Regions from separate parts of the Homo sapiens genome. Here region 1 is linked to region 2. The links come from fine-mapping of genetic effects on gene expression. Tissue or cell type: whole blood. Region 2 holds a variant in brackets; the other region holds the start of a gene. All regions are shown on one strand. Distances are between the middles of the regions.

Evidence for each region. PIP is the estimated chance that this variant, and not a neighbour inherited with it, causes the effect.
Region 1: CARD19 starts here. The variant in region 2 is fine-mapped to the expression of CARD19 in whole blood (TOPMed, PIP 0.91).

The regions. Positions count from the first base shown.
Region 1 is chr9:93,091,257-93,099,431 of GRCh38, forward strand. It overlaps CARD19 (caspase recruitment domain family member 19), which reads left to right and starts at 4,961. Exons shown (of 6, transcript NM_032310.5): 1 at 4,961-5,096. The coding sequence starts at 5,090. It overlaps LOC101927993 (a long non-coding RNA gene), which reads right to left and starts at 4,254. Exons shown (of 4, transcript NR_188444.1): 1 at 4,112-4,254; 2 at 3,315-3,758; 3 at 736-837; 4 at 204-443. RefSeq lists enhancers at 3,949-3,998, 7,192-7,261 and silencers at 4,109-4,418, 4,439-5,188, 5,209-5,318.
Region 2 is chr9:93,068,962-93,077,136 of GRCh38, forward strand. It overlaps SUSD3 (sushi domain containing 3), which reads left to right. Exons shown (of 5, transcript NM_145006.4): 2 at 6,823-7,011. Among named protein-coding and RNA genes, the nearest start is that of SUSD3, 14 kb to the left of the region's middle. RefSeq lists an enhancer at 2,606-2,900. The variant A/G (reference allele first, on the strand shown) is at 3,742.

The DNA of each region.
Region 1 (8,175 bases), 22 kb after region 2:
CTCCACTCCAGCCACAATATCACAATGGTTGTCTCTCAGGCACAGCAAGTTCATTTCTGCCTCGGGGCTCCTGCCTGCCCTGTTTCATCTGGAACACTTCCCCAGCTATCATCTAGCTTCCGCAGTGCAGCAAGGCCTCTGCTCAGATGTCTAGTACATTAGTTATTTATTGCCGTGGAACTGATTACCCAAAAACATGGGAGTTCAAACACAACAATCGTCATTTATTCTCTTTCACTTGGTGGGTCAAGAATTTGGGCTTTGCAGGGTGATTCTGACATAAGGGTTTCTTATGCCACTGCAGTCAGATGTCAGCCAGGGTTGCAGTTTCATCTGAAGTCTCTATTGGGGCTTAGGATCCACTTCCAAGATGATTCACTCTCTCACAGTGAGTCACTGCTGGTTGTTGGCTGGGGGCCTAGTTCCTCTCCACACAGGGCTCTCTGCAAGGCAGGTTGAGCATCCTTACAATATAGTAGCTGATTCGCCCCAGAACAAGCTATCTGAAGATGCAAAGGCTGAAGCCATGATGCCTCTGTGACCCAGCCTCAGAAGTCACACTGTCACCCCTGCCACACTTCACTGGCCACACAGACCAGCCTGATTGACTGTGGGAGGAGACTACACAAGGGCATGACCTGGAATGTGAGGATTGCTGGGGCCACCTTGGAGGCTGGCAACCTCATAGGCATCCTCCGCCTCTTTCTTTGCCTGACTCATCTCCCTAGCTCTTACCAGATCAACATGCAGATGTGTGTTTGTGTCCTCTGGTAACAGGGAAGCTCCATGGGGGAGTGGAGCTTCCAGTCTTCCTTGTGATCCAGCTCTGGGTTGGGCCTATGTTTAGGAGATATTTGTTGAATGAATTAATGAGTGACTGAATGGATAAATGATGCTCCCTGGCCATGTGAGAATGTGGGAGGAGAATGTCCTTGCTCCTTGGTGTTCAGGCCCTTCATCACCTACCATCACCTCTTGGCCTGGTTACAGTCAGCTTCAGCCATGAAGGTCTCCCACAGCCCATGGGGGCCTCATGCCTCCTGCCCTGGCCTAGGAACACCCGTTCTTCAGCATCAGCCTCTCGGGGAGGCCACCCTGTCATCTTTATAGCATCTGTCCTTGCCCTCCTATCCTTAACCCTAATCATCAACAGAACTATCTGTGTGCATTCATTAAGTGCCTCCTGCATGCCAGCCTTTGTGGAGTGAACACTGCAGCACAGATGATGGTCAGTGGAGAAGCCATCATAGGGCAAGACTAGTGCTCTGAAGAACAGAGATGGGGGGTGGGGTGCAGTGGCGAGTGACGTGGTCCAGAAGGGCCAGACTCCAAGTGGGGGTGAGGATGCTAGACACAGAGCTGGGAAGAGCATTCTGGGTGGTCACAGCACACATGAAGATTTGTAAATGGCAGAGGTGGCTGCTGGAGGAACTGGAAGGCTGTGAGCCCGGGTGAGGGAGGAGGATGGTCAGACTCAGTGTTATGACCCCTGTGGCCACTATGTGGGTACTGGGCCATGGGGACAAGGATGGGGCAGGGAACCAGTGAGATGTGAGAAGGCGGCTGCCACCTTCCAGGCAAGACATAACAGGGATGGCGGTCACTGAGGTGGGAGCAGGGCTGGGCTTGGAAGGCAGAGCCCACAGGGTCAGGGTGCAGGTGAGCAGAGGCCTGAGGAATGGCTGGCCCTATGAAAACCAGGGGGAGTGCCCCCACCCAACCCAGTGCAAAGAACCCCTGTGGAAATTAGCTTTGCCTGTATAATTTTAAAATTGTGCCTGCTTTCTAATGAGATCAAGCATGTGATGGCAAGAAAATCTGAAAGAAGCAAATAGTAAGGTGGAGGCCGTTCAGAGGAGTGGGGGTGTGTGTGTGTCAGGGCTCTGGCTTCTGTGACGTTGACAAAGATTCTGTGCTTGACAAACTTTAGCCAGGGTCCTGAACTTTCTCCTTGGCCCATCTGTGAACTTCCTTGTAAAATCCAGTTTCAACAAAGAATCCTCCTAATGAGTTTGGCAAGAACTCCCCACCCTGGATACTTGATCACCCTTGATACCCAATCAGGGTGCTTACCCCCACCATCCCCTGGGTGAGGTCTCGTAAGCCCAGGCTGTCTTTGCAAGAATTCTGTCAGCCGGAATCCCCTTCACCCTGATGTTTCCTCTTCCTAATTTTCCATCCTCAAAGTCCCCTCCTGTCCCAAGTGTCCTTGCTGTATTTGGAATTGAGCCCAGTTCTCTGCTGATGTCTCTCTTCCCCTATCACAAGAGTCCCGAATAAAAATCTGTTTCTACATCTGTAACCACAGTCCAGCTCTGGTTTTTCTTTGACAGTGTCCAAGGGCGGGGCTTCCTGTCACACCTCACTTCACTCCTTCTAAGGGGCCCCTCCACCTTCCCAAGAACTCACTTTCCATTTGGGGTCCAGGCAGCCACAGCTGGCAAGAGCTAGCCCGGAGGGAGGATGCGTGTGCTATGCCTGGGGGAGGGGGAATGCCCAGGATCTGCCATTTGACCATGGGGTGCCCGTGCCTGCTTGCAGCCCCCGTGGTGGGCATCCAGGCTGTACACCCCTGGCTGCACCAGCAGCTGTCCTGCTTTCTGCCGCGGCCTTCCATCTCATAGGGTTGGAGGGCACATCCCAGAGGGCACAGGGCTTTCAGTCCCTGCATGCAGGCTTGGGTTCCTTTAAGTAAATCCTTTTCAAACCCTCAGGTGGCTGAGGAACAGCGACCTGTACTTGGGAGGCCACATCTGGCTGCTAGATTTTGGGCAAGGGGCTTCATGCTCCAAACCTCAGTTTCCCTGTTCATCACATGGCCAGGGGCAGTCCTGAGGGCGCAGAAGTGGATGTGAAGGTGGGATGCTACCTTTCCCAAAAGGGGCTGGGGTCAAGGTTCCCTGAAGGTGGGCAGTGCCTGGAGCCCCTGCAGTCCCCACTGTGTCCCCCTTCCACTCCGTCGCCACCCTTATGGCTCTGACATCACTCAGGGGCAGGAGTGTGTGCAAAATAAACCCAGAGAAGTAAGTACTACACGTCATAACAGTGTGATGGATGCAGAAGAATTGGGGTCAGGCTGCATCCCACTGGGGCAAAAGAGGCCCTCTGGGGAAGCCCCCTCTGGGTCCTCCAGGGGAGCACCTGGAGGCCAGAGCCAGCCTGGACTCACCCAGGCACACAAGCAGATGAGAGGCCTGCAGGGACCCACAGGCTGGTCCACTACCCTCCTGCCCTGGGACGGCCCTGTACATGGGCCTGGGGCAGGCTGGGTCTGATGGCAGCCTGGCCTCCTGGGGAGCATGGACGGGGCTCACCTTCAGTGTTTGGGGACAGGGGTGGCTGCTGTATAGTGACCATGACTGGGCCCCAAGAATTTTGAGGTTTCCAGGTGACAACTGCACCCATTCTCCTGATGCCCCCTATGCCGGCCCTGATGGGAGGTCATGGCACAGGGGAGAACTGAGGCAAAGAGACAGATGGCGCATGGACTGCAGGGACCACTGTGCTGTCCGAGAAGGGGACACTGAGTTGGGCCCCCATTCCGGGTCAGGCTCTGGCATCTCAAATTAGAGCTGCTATGGGGGAACGGCCCACACAGGCAGGGAAGGAAAGAGGAAGGGAAACTGCTGCTGCTGGCTGGGAGAGTGCTGCTATTCCTTCCTTCACGGGTCTCCACTTCCTGGCTGGGGCCCAGTGCATTCACATCATGTGGGGCTAGGAGCTTCTTGTGGCGGGCTCCGGAGCTGGAAATGCCAGGCCTACGAGAGGGAAAGCAGGAAGGAAAGCGGGAGGGAAGTGGAGTTGGCCCAAGGTCACTCATTTTACAGTCCAGGAAACTGAGGCTCAGGCAGGTTAAGTGACCTCTCTAGTTCGGGTCACACTGTCAAGCTAGTGTCTTCTTTTGAAGGTGGGGGACTGGGGTCCCCCAAGAAGGTGTCCCCCCCCCACCCCGCCGAGCGAGGTCACACCGTTGAGTCCTTCTCCCCTGGATTTGGGAAAGCATCACTGGGCACTGCCTCCTTTGGCTGGTCCCTGTGGCGTACTGGACGCCCACCGGCCTTTTGCCCCAGGCCTGGCCCTGTACTCCCCAGGGCCTGACTTTCTGTATGACGTTGGATCAGTCACGTCCCCTCTCAGTTTCAGTTTTCTCATCCAAGGGGTGGGGCGCGAGGCCGGGAGCGGGGAGGTGGACTGAGCCGGCCGGCGGGCCACCTGGATCCCGACTCCGCCACTCAACGCGGCAGGGCCCGGAAGGGCGGGCCCAAGACGGGCAGGGCTCCGGGCAGGAGCGGGCGCCTCCAGGGAGGCGCGCGGCGGTCGTAGCTGAGGCCGCCTTGAGGGCGGGACTTGGACGCGGGCAGGGCTCGAGTGAGAGGCGGGGTTAAAGGCCGCTGCGACGGCGTTATAGACGCCGGCGGGACCGGGGCCCAGCGAGGGGAGGGACTCTGGGCCCCTCGCGGCGTCTTAACTGACGCTGGGAGGGGCGGGAGTCCGGTGGCGCCCGCCCACGCCCGCAGTCGCCCGCCCACGCCCGCAGTCGCATGGCAGAGCAGGAAGGGGCGGGGCTCAGGGCCCCTGGAGGCGCGGAGGCCGACGACGGAGGGGGGCGGGGCTCGAGTAAGGGGCGGGGCCCGGTGGGGGGTTCCTTGAGGCTCGGAAGCCGTCGTCGGAGGGGGCGGGGTTCAGGTGCAGGGCGGGGCTCAGAACTCCGGGAGAGGCGGAAGCCGACGCCGGAGGGGGCGGGGCTCGAGTGAGGGGCAAGGCTCCAGGATCCTCGCAGCGGCCTATCCCAGGACGGCAAGGGGGCGGGACTCGAGTGAGAGGGGCGGAGTTTAGAGCCCTGGGGGAGCCGTAGCGGGCGCGGAAGGGGCGGGGCCTAACGGTAGGGGGCGGGGCTCGTCAAAGGGCGGGGTTTAGAGTCCCCGAGGCTACACAGCCAAAGCCGGGGGGCTGGCCTAGCCAAAAGGGGCGGGCGAGCACGGCCCGCGGGCGGCGTTCGCTGGAGCTGGTGGACCGGGCGGCTGACCGAGGGGCGGACGCGCGGCGGGGCAGACCGCTGGGGACTGCGGGCGGCGCTGTGTCCGTCGCCATGACAGGTGGGCACGGGGTCGGCTGGGCGGCAGGGATGCGGGCGCCCTGGATGGGTGGCCCGGCCCGGGGGTCCGGCTGCCTTGCGAGTCGCCTGCAGGCCGCGCCTGGGCAGCGGGGGCCGAGTGACCTTGGCCCGTCAGCTGTCGGTGGTGCGCGAGTGCACCCCCGCGAAGTGGTGGGTGTCCCGGGGCTTCTACCCGGCGGGGCCGTGCCAGCCGAGGCGGTGCCGGGCATGATGGGTGGTGGCCAGGTGCGGGGCCCGAAGAGGGCGGGGGCTACAAGGCAGCTCCAGGGTGGGGCTGCACAGCCGCGGTCTGGGCTCAGCCACTGCCAATGTGTGTGTGTCCCGTGGTGGGGAATTTGGTCTGAAAGAGTAGGAGGTGGTAGAAATGACACCGGAGAGAATTCACAGCGGTCCTGCTGTGATTCTGGCCACGGAAACAACGCTCCATCCTTACAACCACCCCAGCGAGGTCGCGGGACAGGCGATGCGTTCCTCGGCGGCATGTGATTCCTGTGGGACTCTTGGAGTCTCCCAGACTCCTTCGGTGGTCCACGACGCTCTTGCCCCTGTTTAGTTCTAAGAGAATCGGGGACAGCGACTGGACCCCCCAAGGTTGTTGTGCTCCACGCTAGTGGCCCCAGCCCAGCCTTCCTCCCCAGGGCCTCTCTGGTCTGGGGACCTGCCCACCATCCTCCTGATCCCAAACAGGGTGACTCTGCCCTGTGGACCTTCCCCTGTTGGAGAAGCCCCATGAGGGTGATGGGCTGGTAAGGGACCCCATGGCAGCCCGGCCAGGGAGTATGGGGGTTCCCAGAAGCTACACTTCATTCTTACTGTTCTGTTTCATGGAGCAGAATTGGCTCAGGGGCTCAGGGTAGCCCCAGAAGTCCCTAGTCCTCTCTCGGTGCTCGCTCTCTTGAGTCTCAGCCTAGGTCCTGCCCACAAATAGGATCTCATGGGCTGGAAACTGATGACTTCCAGGACACCAGGCCAGAAGAGACTTCCAGCCTAGGCCACAAGAGACCCCAGCTGCCACCTGCTCCCCTTTGTCCTCCCTTCTAACTCTTCTTATTTGTGGCTCTCATTTCTGAGCACTTACTGTGCATTGGACCCTGTGTTGGGTGATTCCTGTTTGAAAATGATCAGATGGGGACACCTGGAATATCTCGTCTGTGTACAGATGGGGAAACAAAGTCTTAAATTGTGCCCTGCCCAGGCTGGGATTCCGTAATTCCCTTAGTGAGTTCATCAGAATGCGTGGGACACAACTCAGAGCTGTGTTGGTCTCCAGGGAGCCCTGTCCCAGGGACTGGGTGTTGGCAGAGCCTGAGGCCTTGCTGTCCATTAAGGAGCCTTCCTGCACAAAGGGACTTTGTCCCTTTCTGCCTGTCAGGGAAGCTTCCTTGCATAAGGGGACCCTGGAGCTGGGAAACCACATCAGGCAGGGGTCCCTGAAGGCTCTGACTATAGGCCTCACCTTGTCCAGTGTATGCTTCCTACCTGCTATGTCTACTCACTGGGCCTGGAGACATTCCCTCACAACCCTTAGTTTTTGGGATGGGGAACCAAGGCCCATGGAGCACAGCTCTGGGAGGGTCATATGGACAGCCCTGCGAGGCTGCAGACCCATAGTCCCAGGCTCACTGCCTCCATGCACCAACTGGGGTCCTGCCTTGCGCCAGCCCTCGCTGTGAGCAGCGCATGTGAGCCAGTGCCTGCAGAACGCTGAGGAGGTGTCTGCGTGGGGCAGGTGCTTGACAAGTTACCCCCTGGGCTGTGCCGGGGAGTGAGCAGTTTTAGTTGGGCTGAGCACTGAGAGAAGGGGTTTCCTGGAAGAAATTCGGGAGAGGAGGTTGATGCCCAAGTGTCTGGACTCCAGTTGGTTGGGGATGACAGGAACTCAGGAAGGCCTTTTGCACGTAGAACAGCAAGGTGAACATGAATTAACCAGGTGGAAACCAAGGAACAGGTATTCTCAGCCTGGGCTGAGATGTCTTGTGGGCCTAGAGGGCCCGGTGAGAGTGGGTGGGGCCAGCTCCCACGGGGCCTTGAATGCCAGGCTGAGGGCATCAGTCTGGGCTGATAAGAAGGTTCATATTGGGGTGTTTGAATGGGGGTCCATAGTCCTGGTGCCAGCCTGGCAAGAAGGAAGGGGATGTAGGGCGTGGTGAAGGCTTGCCAGGTCTGTGCCAGAGCGAGCCATCTTCCTTTGTCCTGTAAAAACAGTTCAGGGACTTGTTTATCGGGAGCTGGCACTGAGATGGTTTCCCTTCTTGTGCCTTTTCTGGCTTCCAAGTGCTGCCTGTTTGTGTGCACAACTCGCAACCACAGGAAGCACAGGACCCCCAAGCCGCAGAGCCTGGCTTCAGCCTCCGGACCGTGCGGCCTGTGCCAGCTGACTCACGGCTCATGGTGACTCATGGCTCTGCAGCAGCGGAGGCTCTGCCTGGTTAGCGGCTTGCAGGGCAGGAGGAAGCCACTACAGGATGCTGGCCACGGTCCACCTACAGCCCTTGCCCCTGGGTCTTGGACCATACATTGCAGAACTCTTTTTTTTTTTTTTTTTTTGAGACAGAGTCTCATTCTGTCACCCAAGCTGGAGTGCAGTGGTGCAATCTTGGCTCACTGCAACCTCTGCCTCCTGGGTTCAAGGAATTCTTCTGCCTTAGCCTCCTGAGTAGCTGGCTCAGCCTTCTGAGTAGCTGGGAATACAGGCGTGTGCCAGCATGACCAGCTAATTTTTTTTGTATTTTTAGTAGAGATGGGGTTTCACCATGTTGCCCAGGCTGGTCTTGAACTCCTGACCTCATGATCCATCTGCCTCGGCCTCCCAAAGTGCTGGGATTATAGGCGTGAGCCACCGCGTCCGGCCTGCAGAACTCTTTAGTGAGCACCTACTGGGTGCTCAGCCAAGTGGGCAATGCTGGAGAGGACAGCCTTGGGCGTGCTTTTGGACTGGCAGGGAGTAGACTGCTGTAGCTGATTACAGTGAATTTCCATGTTAATTAGAGAGGCAGAACGTCTGAATATCAAGAGGTGGTCCTCAACATGGCTGTGCCTGGGCCTGGATCTTGATCTGT
Region 2 (8,175 bases):
ATACCAATTATAACAATATATTATAATAAGAGTAATGTGAATGTGGTCTCTCTCTCTCTAAATATCTTAATAGACGGTACTCACCCTTCTTGCGATGATGTGAGATGATAAAATGCCTACATGATGAGATGAAGTGAGATGAAAAACATAGGCCTTGTGATGGAATGGGAAATTCCAGAGATAATTTGTAAGTTTTACACTGTGAGCCACTCTGAGTGTTGTGATGAAATCTCACCCATCCCGCTCCACCCCGCCTGGGATTGCTGTCAGTCACTTAGTAGCCCTCTGGGTTATCAGACCCCCTGATACTGCAGTGCTTGTGTTCAGGCAACTCTCATTTCACTTAATAATGGCCCAAAACACAACTGTTGTGAGGTACTATTTTCTGATTGTGGAACCACCGGTAACTGAAACCATGGAAAGTGAAAACAAGGATAAGGACGGACTACCATAATATGTTGCCATCGTAACAATATTAAGTCTTCTGATCCATGAGCATAGGATGTTTTCCCATTTATTTAGGTCTTTAATTTCTTTCAACAACGTTTTGTAGTTTTCAGAGTATGTGTTTTGCACTTCTGTTATTAAATTTATAACTAATTTATTCTTTTTGATGCTGTTGTATAAAATGTTTTTCTTAATTTTCAATTTGCTCACTGCTACTGTACAGAAATACATTGACTTCTGTATGTTGACCTGGTATTCTACAACCTTGCTGAACTAATTTCTATTTATAATAGCTTTTAGTGGATTTCTGAGGCTTTTCTACATATATACGAAATCATGTCATCTAATGGAGATTGTTTTACTTCTTCCTTTTTTTTTTCTTTTTTTTTGAGATGGAGTCTCACTTTGTTGCCCAGGCTGGAGTGCAGTGGTACGATTTTGGCTCACTGCAACCTCTGCTTCCTGGGATCAGGCGATTCTCCTGCCTCAGCCTCCCAAGTAGCTGGGATTACAGACATGTGCCACCCACACCCGGTTAATTTTTGATTTTAGTACAGATAGGGTTTCACCATGTTGGCCAGGCTGGTCTTGAACTCCTGACCTCAAGTGATCCACCTGCCTCGGCCTCCCAAAGTGCTGGGATTACAGGCATGAGCCACCATGCCTGGCCGAGCCATTTGTTTTTCTTTTCTAACTTACACATTTTGCTGTGATTTTTGTCATTGGCTTATTAATATATAAGTGCTGTTTATGTAGAGAAGATACAAATCTCCTATTACATATATGTTACAAATATAAGAATCTTAGACACCGCATCTAGTGGTGGCTCCCTCCCTGCTATCAGTGGGCATTTGGGCAGGTGAATCCACCTCTCTGAGCCTTATCTGTAATAATACAGATAAAGAATGTGGGGTGCTCTTGAACAGAATATTCTATCCATACATGCATTGTTATTGTTAGTGGCTGTGCAAATGCTGAGGATCCATAGACAGGGAGCAGTCAGAATGGCCCTGCCCAGGCCAGAGGCTGGCCTTCCCCAGATACTGAAGGGGCAGAAAGGATGGGGGCAGCCCGGGGATAAAGAGCCAGGTGCCTGCGGTTGACCCTGGCGGAACCACAAACTGGCTGTGTGACCTCAGTGTCCCTGAGCCATGGTTTCTGGGGCTGCAGAATGGGGGAGACAGTTCTTCCAAGGACATCATGGCTCCTGCCCTCATGTGTACCAGGCACAACCACCTTCCAGATGCCTTGGCATTACACCTCATTTCCTCAGCACCCCAGTCCAAGGTGGGCACAACAGCTGTGCTGACTTTGAGGCCGGGGCAGGCTCCCTTGCCTGGGCCCCCAAATGTGTGTGGTGGAGGTGGACTAGGAGCCCCACAGGCTGGAACCCGTGTGTTCGTTTCTGTACTGTCACCCAACAGCTGCTGAAGCGCTCAGCACAGAGTAGAGCCTGGGCATTATTCTTCCTTCTATTATTATTGTTGCTGATATTCCTACTTTTGTTATTGTCACCTTGGGGCCCCAAGTGGACCAGCCAGAATCCCAAGCGCTAAATAGGGCACTGGGCTGAGACGTGTTGCTGAAGCTTTGTATCAGATTTGAGCCAGTCCACTTAACAAATCCACAAGAAAACAGTGGCCTAACTCCAGCTGGAGTTTATTGCTGTCTCTTCTTAGGATCCGAGAGGTTGGTCTGTCCTTTCACATGTCTACCATCTTTGCTCCCTGTATTAGTCAGGGTTCTCTAGAGGGACTGGACTAATAGCATAGATGTATATATAAAGGGGAGTTTATTAAGGAGTATTGACTCACACGATAACAAGGTGAAGTCCCACAATAGGCTGCCTGCAAGCTAAGGAGCAAGGAAGCCAGTCTGAGTCCTAAAACCTCAAAAGTAGGGAAGACAGTGCAGCCTTCAGTCTGTGGCAGAAGGCCCGACAGCCGTTGGCAAGCCACTGGTGTAAGTCCAAGAATCCAAAAGCTGAAGAACTTGGAGTCTGATGTTCAAAGGCAGGAAGCATCCAGCATGGGAGAAAGATGAAGGTCAGAAGATTCAGCCAATCTAGTCCTTCCACGTTCCTCTGCCTGCTTTTATTCTAGCCTCACTGGCAGCTGATTAGATGGTGCCCACCAGATTAAGGGTGGGTCTGCTTCTCCCAGTCCACCGACGCAAATGTTAATCTCCTTTGGCAACACCCTCACAGACACACCCAGTGACGATACATTGCGTCCTTCAATTCAATCAAGTTGACACTCAATATTAACCATCACACTCCCCAATGCAGAAGTGACACAGCATCTATGCTCACACCTCATTGGCCAGGTTCAGTCACGTGACTGCTCCCTGGAGGGCAGGTTGGGAAATGTAGTTTTCAGTGGTGATCACATTTCCAGCTGCAACTCTGGGATGGGGAGAAGGGATACTAGAGGCAACCGCAGCCAGGGGTGGGAACTAGAGTTGCAGCTGCCCAGGATGAGGTGAGATGGGGCAGATTCCACCCACTGGGCTTGGCCATCAGGTGGGGCTCCCGAAACAGTGTGCTGGGTCTCAGTTCCATCCCTACCACCTTCCCACTGAGTGACCTTGGGCATGCCATTGAGCTTTGCTGTGCCTCAGTTTCCCCATCTGTAAGGTAGGGGTAGACCACCCTCCTCATAGGGCTATAATGCAGTACAGCACCCATTAGGCCCCCAGTGTTGTCTGTGTTAGATCAGTCCCTCCCCCATCCCTCCCAGAAAAGTACACAAACCATAAGCCCCTCCCACCCCTCTTCCCTTGCTAGCAAGTATCCTCAAGGCAGAAGCAGTGTAGCCTGACCCTCCCAAAGCGGTGGGGCATGTCTGCCTCAACCCCTCCTGAGGGCCACCCCTGCCTCTGCACTCTCGCCCTCAGCATCTCAGCTTGTTAAGGCCCTGGGGTCCTCAGTCATGCAGAGGCCAGGGGCAGGGGGACCACTGGGTGCTGCTGGGGAGTGGGTCAATGTGACCTGGCCAGCTGCAGCCAAATGCCATCCTTCACTGTCACTACCATGGCACAGAGCCTCTGGTAGCCTCCACTTTTGCCAGATCCCAGACCAGACTTCGGAGCCTGGCCTGAAGCCCAGCTCTGCTGATGCCCATTAATAGCCGTGGCACACATGGCTGGGGCAAGGGGTGGTGTGACCTCTCTGAGCCTCAGTTTCCCCCCAGATGGGCTTGTGAATTGAGATGTGGGGTAAGAAATGGAGTGATATGTCTCGCAGATAAAGACCTTGCCTGGGCACACAGCCAGCCCACGTGACTGCTCCTGGGC[A/G]GATGTGAATAAATCTGGGGGATGGTATGCAGCCTACCGCAGATGTCTTTGGTAAACATTTTAAAATTAGAGTCCACAGAGTTTGCTGGCCAATTGGTTGTGGATTGAGAAAGTAGGTTTCAAGGTTTAGGGCCCAAGCAACTGAAGGATGGAGGGACTGCTGATTTAAATTAAAGTTATAAGAGGAGAAGCTACATGGTGAGCAGGTTTGGGGAGCTCAGAAGCTTGGCTATGTCTCATCTCAGGCTCGGTGGGCAGTAGGACTTCCATTCCTGGCACCCAGGGCATGGTCCTGGCTGGAGATGTAGCACACAGAGGACAGAGGAAGGTCGTAGCAGGTCAGTGTGGAATAATGGGGTCCCTCAGACTCTGCATGCCCCAGTTTTTGTCCCTGCCATCACCCCCATCTCTGGGTGTCAGTCCCTGCCTGTGCCGAGGGAGACAGGCACAGAGATGCTCAGGTGGCCCTTCACCACTGCTGCCTCCGGTCAGTCTCTGCCTCTGCACACACCATGCATCAGCACGGCCTGCTGTCCCTGTTCTTTTTTTTTTTTTTTTTTTTGAGACGGAGTCTCGCTCTGTCGCCCAGGCTGGAGTGCAGTGGTGCAATCTCGGCTCACTGCAAGCTCTGCCTCCTGGGTTCACACCATTCTCCTGCCTCAGCCTCCCAAGTAGCTGGGACTTCAGGCGCCCGCCACCACACCTGGCTAATTATTTTTCTATTTTTAGTAAAGACGGGGTTTCACCGTGTTAGCCAGGATGGTCTCAATCTCCTGCCCTCGTGATCCGCCCGCCTCGGCCTCCCAAAGTGCTGGGATTACAGGCGTGAGCCACCGTGCCCGTCCTGTCCCTGTTCTTTACCTGTGATGCACCAGCGGTCCACTGTCAATGCCCAAAAATCAGGAAATACCAGATAAGCAGGAGGAAGAGCCTCCTGGATTTGGACACCAGGAGACCTGCTTGGGGATGTCCTTAGCAGTTTCACTGAACGTCCTTGAACCCCAGAGACAACTCAGATGCAGGGAACAGGGACACACACTGAGGCCCATCTGCACAATGGAACACTTCACTGCTGTGAAAAGTAACCAGCTGCTGATATATGCATAGCACAACGACTCAGATGCATTTTGTGTGTGTGTCTGTGTGTGTATGAACGTGTGTGAAGTTAGACCAGAGCCTCCTTGTCTGGTTCTGAGTCTTCCCTGCAGCATAAGAGCCGTGTGACTGCAAAAAGTGTGGTAAGACCCTCTGCCCAGTTTGCTCATCTGTCGATGGGGATAATGATGGTTCTCCCTGGGTAGGCTGCTATGCCGATAGATGATGGCACATGTAAGGCAGGTGCAATGGCATCCAGCCACAGTAATCTTCTCAGTCCCAGCTGTTGTCGTTATAATTTTATAAAAATTCTTGATTGCTGTTGCATCCAGAGCATCTCTGTGTCCTTATTTAAGAACATCACTGGCCGGGTGTGGTGGCTCACGTCTGTAATCCCAGCACTTTGGGAGGCCAAGGCGGCCGGATCACGAGGTCATCATGGCCAACATGGTGAAACCCCGTCTCTACTAAAAATACAAAAAATCAGCCAGGTGTGGTCGCACATGCCTGTAATCCCAGCTACTCGGGAGGGTGAGGCAGGAGAATTGCTTGAACCCAGGAGGTGGAGGTTGCTGTGAGCTGAGATCACGCCATTGCACACTCCAGCCTGGGCGACAGGGCAAGACTCTGACTCAAAAAAAAAAAAAAAAAAAAAAAAAAAGAACATCACTGTAAGTGCTCTCTGGTATTTTAATGTCTGGATGGCCCTGGGTAAGGGAATCATTCCCTCCTGCTGGAGGCGTGGGTTGTTTCAGCCTTTCACTATTATGTATGGTTCTGAGGTGGGCTTCCCCATAGAGAAATCTTGGCAGCAGATTCTTTTTTTTTTTTTTTTTTTTTTGAGATGCAGTCTCACTCTGTTGCCAGGCTGGAGTGCAGTGATCTTGGCTCACTGCAACCTCTGACTCCCTGGTTCAATCGATTCTCCTGCCTCAGCCTCCTGAGTAGCTGGAATTACAGGCACATGCCACCATGCCCAGCTAATTTTTGTATTTTTAGTAGAGATGGGGTTTCACCATGTTGGCCAGGATGGTCTCAATCCCCGACCTCATGATCCACCTGCCTCGGCCTCCCAAAGTGCTGGGATTACAAGCATGAGCCACCATGCCTGGCCAGCAGATTCTTATTTCCTGTGGCTAAAGGTTCATATGCAACATAGGGTGCTTATTGCATTTACCAAATGCTCTGCAGAAAGGTTGGATCTGTACCCCAGCCCGGGTACAGGGCTTCCCAGGCCCTGCCAACTTGCACATTGTTTTCTTTTTGCCTTTACCTCACCGACGCAGGAAAAATGAGCTCTCCCTTGAATCAACATTTCCTCAATTGCCTGTGGGTCTGCATTTTTCATGACTGTGGGCCACTGGTATCCTTGTGAATTGCTTGTTCACACATTAGAACTTGTTGGTTTTTTTTAAACTGAATATTCAGTTTTCATTGATGTGTAAGACCTCTTCATAGATTAAGACTACCGAACCAACCTTTGACCTATGCTTTCCAAATATCCTTTCCCGAATTTTTCACCTGAGTTGGTTGTTTTCCATTATTAGGGAGCCTCAGAAGCTTTTGCTTTCTGCTTTGTATGCAGTCAAATCTGCTGATCTCTCTCTGTCCCTCTTTTTTTTTTTTTTTTTTTTTTTGTTCTGATTTCTGCCTTTGGAGCCGTGTTTAGGTCATAATCAAAGGCCATGCCTCAGTGTCTCAGGGAAGGTATGTTTGCTTTTATTGTCTTCTAACACTTATTTCTTTTTTTAATGCTCCAATCCTCAACATCTAGAGTGTACTTCATGGAGGGATCCAGCTCTGCGTTGTCCCCCGGTCTGGATGACCCCATGTGACCTCTAGAGCATCCAATGGCCTTTGGAGCTGCACCCCACCCCTGTGCTCCCCAATGCTGTGCCAGCTCCTCACTCCAGGGTCCTGCCCAGCCCTGCCCTGCGTGCCCACCCCCCCCCCCCCGCCATGCCTCATACCTGCCTGTCTCCCCAGGCACGTGCGCTAAGCTGCGGCTACCCCCGCAAGCAACCTTCCAAGTCCTTCGTGGCAATGGTGCTTCCGTGGGGACCGTGCTCATGTTCCGCTGCCCCTCCAACCACCAGATGGTGGGGTCTGGGCTCCTCACCTGCACCTGGAAGGGGAGCATCGCTGAGTGGTCTTCAGGGTCCCCAGTGTGCAAACGTAAGGACCCCTCTCTCAGCTCGGTGGCTCTGGGGGTGGGGGATGGCCCCAAATCCTGTCATGGGGATGGTGTGGGTGGGGATGGCGTGGGTGTCTACTCACAAGCAGCTAGGCCAGTGTGTAGGGTCCCATTCCCAACACTGACAGCTTGCTTACATGTCAGCAGCCGGCTGTAGGCCCTCAGCCCTCCCAGTGCCATGTTGGCAGCACGGACCGAAAACCTAGTAGCGGGCCTCCAATCCTGGCTCTGCTACCGACTCAGCCCCTCACCGCCAAGAGGCTGTGCATGCTCTCTGAGCCAGCACGTTTTCATCTGTTAAGCAGGAAACTATGTTTGTTCATTCATTCATTCATTCATTCATTCATTCATGTACAGGTGCACATGGCCAACTTTAATAGGATATTTCACGTATCAGGAATCTTAAGTACTGGCAACACGGAAGGTCATAACGTGCCTGGCCCTGGAGCTCCCAGTCTGTGGGAGGCAATGGTTTTCTGGTTGTATTTCTTGTACAGGTGTTGAAAGGTCCACAAGATAGTCCCTTTTCAGTGCCCAGCATGACATTTCCAAAATGAAGCTATGTGTGTTATGTTCATGTGTTTTGTGCATAAAAAGGGCTCAGAGTCAAAATAGTTTGGCAGATTCTGGGTTTTTATGCTGCAGAACTTCTCAGAGCCTTTAAAATGTTCACGTGCTAGGTGATTCTCTGAGGATGCGAGTGTTAGGATTAGATTCTGAAAGGCAGAAAACCCAAAATACTAGGATTAACTATGATGGAGCTCAACCTTCAGGGTGGGCAGGCAGATCTGTATAGGCTCCATGGCAGTGGGAGCCAGGCCCCTTCCCTGGCATGGCTCTGCTGGGCATGGCCTCAGCCTCATGATTCAAGATGGCAGCAGCTATGTTCCAGGCAGCTGTTATGGGGTGAGGGGCCCTGGGGCCAAAGAGCAGGCCCCAGTGTCTCAGGGAAGGTTCTTAGAAGTTGCCCCACATCACTTCTTATCTTCCACTGGCCAGAACATGGTCCTGTGACCACTGGGAAATGTAGTCTCCATTTTGGGTGGCCAGGATCCACTAGGGAGCATGGGAAATGGGGCAGGGGACAGGGCCATGTTCTCTACGTGGGGGAGTAAACGGTGTTGCTCAAATTAGGATTCCGAGGC